2 separate regions of the Homo sapiens genome follow, and region 2 is linked to region 1. Evidence: fine-mapped expression QTL. Tissue or cell type: subcutaneous fat. Region 1 holds a variant in brackets; the other region holds the start of a gene. All regions are shown on one strand. Distances are between the middles of the regions.

The links. PIP is the estimated chance that this variant, and not a neighbour inherited with it, causes the effect.
Region 2: CSNK1A1 starts here. The variant in region 1 is fine-mapped to the expression of CSNK1A1 in subcutaneous fat (GTEx, PIP 0.97).

The regions. Positions count from the first base shown.
Region 1 is chr5:149,480,304-149,482,986 of GRCh38, forward strand. No RefSeq gene overlaps it. Among named protein-coding and RNA genes, the nearest start is that of MIR145, 51 kb to the left of the region's middle. The variant C/T (reference allele first, on the strand shown) is at 1,432.
Region 2 is chr5:149,550,248-149,552,930 of GRCh38, forward strand. It overlaps CSNK1A1 (casein kinase 1 alpha 1), which reads right to left and starts at 1,192. Exons shown (of 10, transcript NM_001892.6): 1 at 595-1,192. The coding sequence starts at 717. It also overlaps a transcript of ARHGEF37 not described here. RefSeq lists enhancers at 1-453, 700-759, 890-949, 980-1,649, 1,349-2,142 and 1 more.

The DNA.
Region 1 (2,683 bases):
TGATTGACCTCTCTTGGGATATAATTAAAAACAGAAATTTCAAATTTGAGTTCAAATGGTGCTCAGAAAAGTACAACCCCCTACAGAAACCCTCCAACCACAAGTTTTGCAACTACTTAAAGTTATGATTTAAAAAACTAGATGTCAGGCGCGGTGGCTCATGCCTGTAATCCCAGCACTTTGGGAGGCCGAGGCAGGCGGATCACGAGGTCAGGAGATTGATTGAGACCATCCTGGCTGACACAGTGAAACCCCGTCTCTACTAAAAAATACAAAACAAAATTATCTGGGCATGGTGGCGGGTGCCTGTAGTCCCAGCTACAGGAGAATGTCGTGAACCTGGGAGGTGGAGCTTGCAGTGAGCCGAGATCGCGCCACTGCACTCCAGCCTGGGCAACAGAGCGAGACTCTGTCTCAAAAATCACAAAAAAAACCCCAAAAAACTAGATGTCAAAAATTAGCCGGGCATGGTGGCACATGCCTGTAATCCCAGCTACTAGGGAGGCTGAGGCAGGAGAATTGATTGAACGTGGGAGGCAGAGGTTGCAGTGAGCCAAGATCACGCCACTGCACTCTGGCCTGGCTGACAGAGTGAGACTCCATCTCAAAAAATAAAAATAAATAAATAATTAAAAACTAGATGTTAACTTAAAAGTGTGCAAATAGATACACTATTTTCAAATTTCTTTTAGGGACATGTGAACAGAAGTGTTTGAAAAGTCTAAACCAGCAGTGACAGCAAACAAGATGACCATCCACATTTCACTTTTCTCAAAAGACTCTTAATTTCCAACCCCTTATTTTGGGAGAACTGAAAACCATTTTCGCCCTGCTTTCTGATCTAAATCCCAATTAACATGAGAAATATTAAGACAATAGGGTTAAGAGTGAAGAAATCTGGAGGGCACAGCGGCCGACACCTGAAATCCCAGCATATTGGGAGGCCGAGGCAGGGGAAGATGGCTGAGCCCAGGTGTTTGAGATCAGGCAGGGCAACATAGGGAGACCTCTGTCTCTACATTAAAAAAAAAATAATAAAAATTTTAAAAACCAGCCAGGCATGGGGGTGCACACCTGTAGTCCCAGCTACTTGGGAGGCTGAGGTGGGAAGATTAACTTGAGCCCAGGATGTCAAGGCTGCAGTGAGCTGTGATTATGCTACTGCACTCCAGCCTGGGCAACAAAGTGAGACCCTGTCTCTTAGGGAAAAAAAAGGGTGAAGAAACCACTAAATTGTTTTATGGCCTTAATGCAGTCAGTTCCGCCTTTCTGAGCCAGTGTCCTCAATAGCAGAGTGTTGAAGCATATTTTAAAATGTACATTTAAAAGATGCAGTCTTGTCCTAATGTTTTATGATCTTGAATGTCCCTTCCAGGAATAACATTTTTAGACTCTTTGCTATTTTTCAATGCCAAAATCTTGTGTCCTCCA[C/T]GCTTCTCTCACCCCCAGCTATGTCCCCCTGGAGAGAAATGAACACATCTTTGGGTGAAACACACGCTCAGTTTATGACCTATGCCTATAGATTTACAAGTTCTTTTCTGGTTGGAAGTCACCTCACCGCCCCCACCTGCACACCCCAAGGTTGTCTTAGCTATAGCTAAGCTGCCTTCCCCCATGAGTCTATCACTAAAAAAAATAGTCACTAAGCATCTGCAACTCATGTGCCCTTCCTCAAGCATTAGGAGTAAAGATGAATGAAGTCCGGCCTTGGGGAGCTTTGTCTGGTCAGAAGGAAACACGTTTGAGTAATTGCAGAAATACAATTGCAAAATCTGGCTAGGAAAGCGCGGCAGTGAAGGCGCAGAGGAGGCACAGACCAGCTTTTCTCGTGGTGTGGGAAACTTCCCAGAGACGTTTGAATTGGCTTTTGAACAAAGAGGCAGATTGGAGAAAGTGGAAGGCATTTCTAGCACAGAGAAACATATGAAGGCAAGATGGCACAATGAATCCTGGGAATTGCGAGTGTATCTGGAGCGTACTGTGTGGGATGGAAATTGGGGCTGGGAATAGAAGCCAAGAGATAAATTTGGATAGCTTGGTAAACAGGGAACAGATCACGGAATTTGGTCATTATCCTGAAAGCAGTGGGGGTGGGAAGGGGCACATTCAAGAATCATATGGAGAATGAAGCTTAGATAAGAGCTACTTCAAGTGTTCAGGCAGCCAGGCGCAGTGGCTCACGCCTGTAATCCCAGCACTTTGGGAGGCCAAAATGACCAGATCACCTGAGGTCAGGAGTTCAAGACCAGCCTGGGCAACATGGCAAAACCCCATCTCTACTAAAAATACAAAAATTAGCCGGGCATGGTGGTGGGCACCTGTAATCCCAGCTACTCGGGAGGCTGAGGCAGGAGAATCACTTGAACCCGGGAGGCAGAGGTTGCAGTGAGCCGAGATGATGCCACTGTATTCCAGCCTGGGTGGCGAATGAGACTCTGTTTCAAACAAACAAAAAAAAGAGTTCAGGTAAGCGATAGTAAAGGGCAAATTCAAGGAAACAGTGAGATGGACTTGATAGAGGAGTCAAGGGTGGCTCCCAGGTGTCCTGCTCGTCCATGCATAGAAGGAAGGGCAGGTTTAGAGAGGCAAGATAGTAGATTCATTTGTAGACATAGTGAGTCAACTGGGATAATTAGCTAGCCATTTCAAAGCATGGATTTGGAATTCAAGTTGCACAAGAGCC
Region 2 (2,683 bases), 70 kb after region 1:
GGAGACATTAGCAAAACTCCAAGTCGCGACTACAAGAAGAAGTGAAAAGCTGGAAAGAGAAAGCTCTCGGTAATTATAAAACGAGGCAACCAGCCTCAAAGGCCTCTTCAGGGGGTAGTGACGAAATCCGTACGTCCTCTAAAGTGCAGGAAAATGATTCATCCAGAAAAAAGAGGCAACCTCTGAACGTAGTGAGAGGTTTTTAAGGAACTAGGCGATCGGAAACTGTTCTAATTGGAACAAGAGGCCCAGTAGAATTAAGAATTAAAAAAAAAAAAACATGGGAATCACTGAAAGAGGATTTTGCCGTTTCCACCTTAAAAGACGGTTAAAAAAAAAAAAAGCTCGACTAAGGGACATTTATGGGACGTGTTTAACAAGGTGGGAAACTAGTTCCCCCAACCTTTCTATCGGGTTCTTGACCCTTTTAGGGAGACAGCGGACGAGGTTCGTAAGCCAGGAAAACTAGCTCCCTGGACTCCCTGGCGAGTGCGTGCGATGAGGAGAGGCCCGAGCACTTTGGGGGTGCACGGTGGTGGTGGGGGGAATGAGTAAAAGCGCAGCGTTATCGTGAACCCCACCCCAGATGATTACCTCGCCGTTGGTGATGTTGATCGCCAAATAGATGTCCCCGAAGGAGCCAGACCCGATCTTCCGTACCAGTTTATATTTCCCTCCGACAATGAATTCAGCCTTGGAGCCGCTGCTACTCGCCATCCTGAGAGACGAAGATGGAGGCTGGGGCCAAGCCCCGACACCTCTGGGAAGAGGACGGAGGCCTCGGGGCTCCTACACTAGGCAAGGCTACGGAGGAGGGCGGCAGGAAACGGAACACGGAGGCCTTTACCGGGGTTCGGGGCCCAGAATCAGCAGAGGGGAACCTGATCACCGCCGCTCAGTCAGGTTTCTTTTTGCCAGGCCGCAGTTTGTGAAGGGCTTCTCGGCGGTTACCAGGCTGGGCCACTTGTTTCTCGGCGGCCGCCGCTGCCTCGCTTGCGCGGCGACGTCGCGGGCTGGAAAAGGGGCGCGGTGAGCTAGGGCGGCGATACCGCTGCCACCACTGCCGCCGGCTCCGGCCCAGAGGGACCCCTGTCACTCCGCGGACGACGCCATCTTGTTACTCCAGCTCCAGCCAACACAAAATGCCCCCAGTCCCCGGGAGCCGCTTCTTCACGGCGCAGAGCACTCTGGGAAAGGGATCTCGGGCGCTCGCTCCGAAGGATCGGCAGCGAGAGGGCGGAACCGGATCCGTGAGAGTCGCGGCCCACGCTCCGAGCGTCACCCTGTCACCGCCCAGCTGCGCATGAGCGCTGCAACTCCTGCTGACTGCGCAGGCGTGCCGCGGCCTGTCCTCACCCCCGTCCCGGGCTCTCTTCCACTTCCGGTCGGCGGCGGCTCAGCAGGTGTTACCTGTTACTCGCCTCGGACCCGCCGGGTCTCTGGAAGGCTGAGTGGCCCCCCGGCCTTGATATTGGGAGGAGTCACCTTCATGTTTCGTGGCAGATGAAAGCTTAAGGCCTCCTTAGGAGTTGGGTATTGACCTGTGCTCTTTGAGGCGGTTTTTAACCTTTGATCTTTCTTCTGGCCGTTCCCCCGGACCGGCCTATTCCAACCCAGTTTCTGTTTGGAAAGAGGCTGTCGCCTCTGGTGGAGAGGAAGAGAAAAGCAGCCAGCGTCGAGGAATCTCTCAGGGCTCTCGGTTGTAGCAGAGCCTAGCTAATTACCCTTCATAATTAGAATTGTCCTATCTACTACGGAGTGTTATAGACCCTCTTTCCACAGGAGGGGAAGAAAGAAAGAAGCCGGAATCCCCCTGCCATCCTATGTCTTTGCATTATTGCCTCACTACCACATATGATCTTCAGAAGAAAACCTGGTATGTTGCTCATAATGAAGATTAAGGATAGATGGAATCAACAGAAAATTAATTTAACAAGAGTGAAAAAACTGTTATGTCCCCTCAACCCCACCAAAAAAAAAAAAAAAAAAAAAAAAAAGAATCGTATGTTGGTCTTGTTGAAAACCTCAGTATTAACCTGAACAGAGTAGAGGTAACTATTACAAAATTTAATTGACAACATTTAAAACTACACGGTAATTTTTTTCTTTTTTACAAAAAATCGATCAGAGAATCAAATTTTGACCACGTTTTGTTTTACAAAATTTGACCTGGGAAAATTGGGCTTAGTAATAATAATGTTCACGAAAGAAAACTCCATGGTTGATGCTATCATCTTAAGTCAGACCTCAGTCGTAAAAATTTAAGCTAAGCCTATCCTAAATAAAATTTAATTAAAATAGAAATGGGGGGCGGGCGCAGTGGCTCACGCCTGTAATCCCAGCACTTCGGGAGGCCGGGGCGGGCAGATCACTTGAGGTCAGTTGTTCGAGACCAGCCTGGCCAACATGATGAAACCCCGTATCTACTAAAAATACAAAAATTAGCCGGGTGTGATGGCGCACACTTGTAACCCCAGCTATTCGGGAGTCTGAGAATCGCTTGAACCCGGGAGGCGGAGGTTGCGGTGAGACTAGATCACGCCACTGTACTCCAGCCTGGGCAACAGAGAGACCCTGTCTCAAAAAAAAAATAATTAATTAAATAGAAATGGGAGAAAAATGTGAAGAATTTTAACTGCAACTTTGAAAGGTGGTCAAGTAATTAGTAATAGGGTTCATCTCG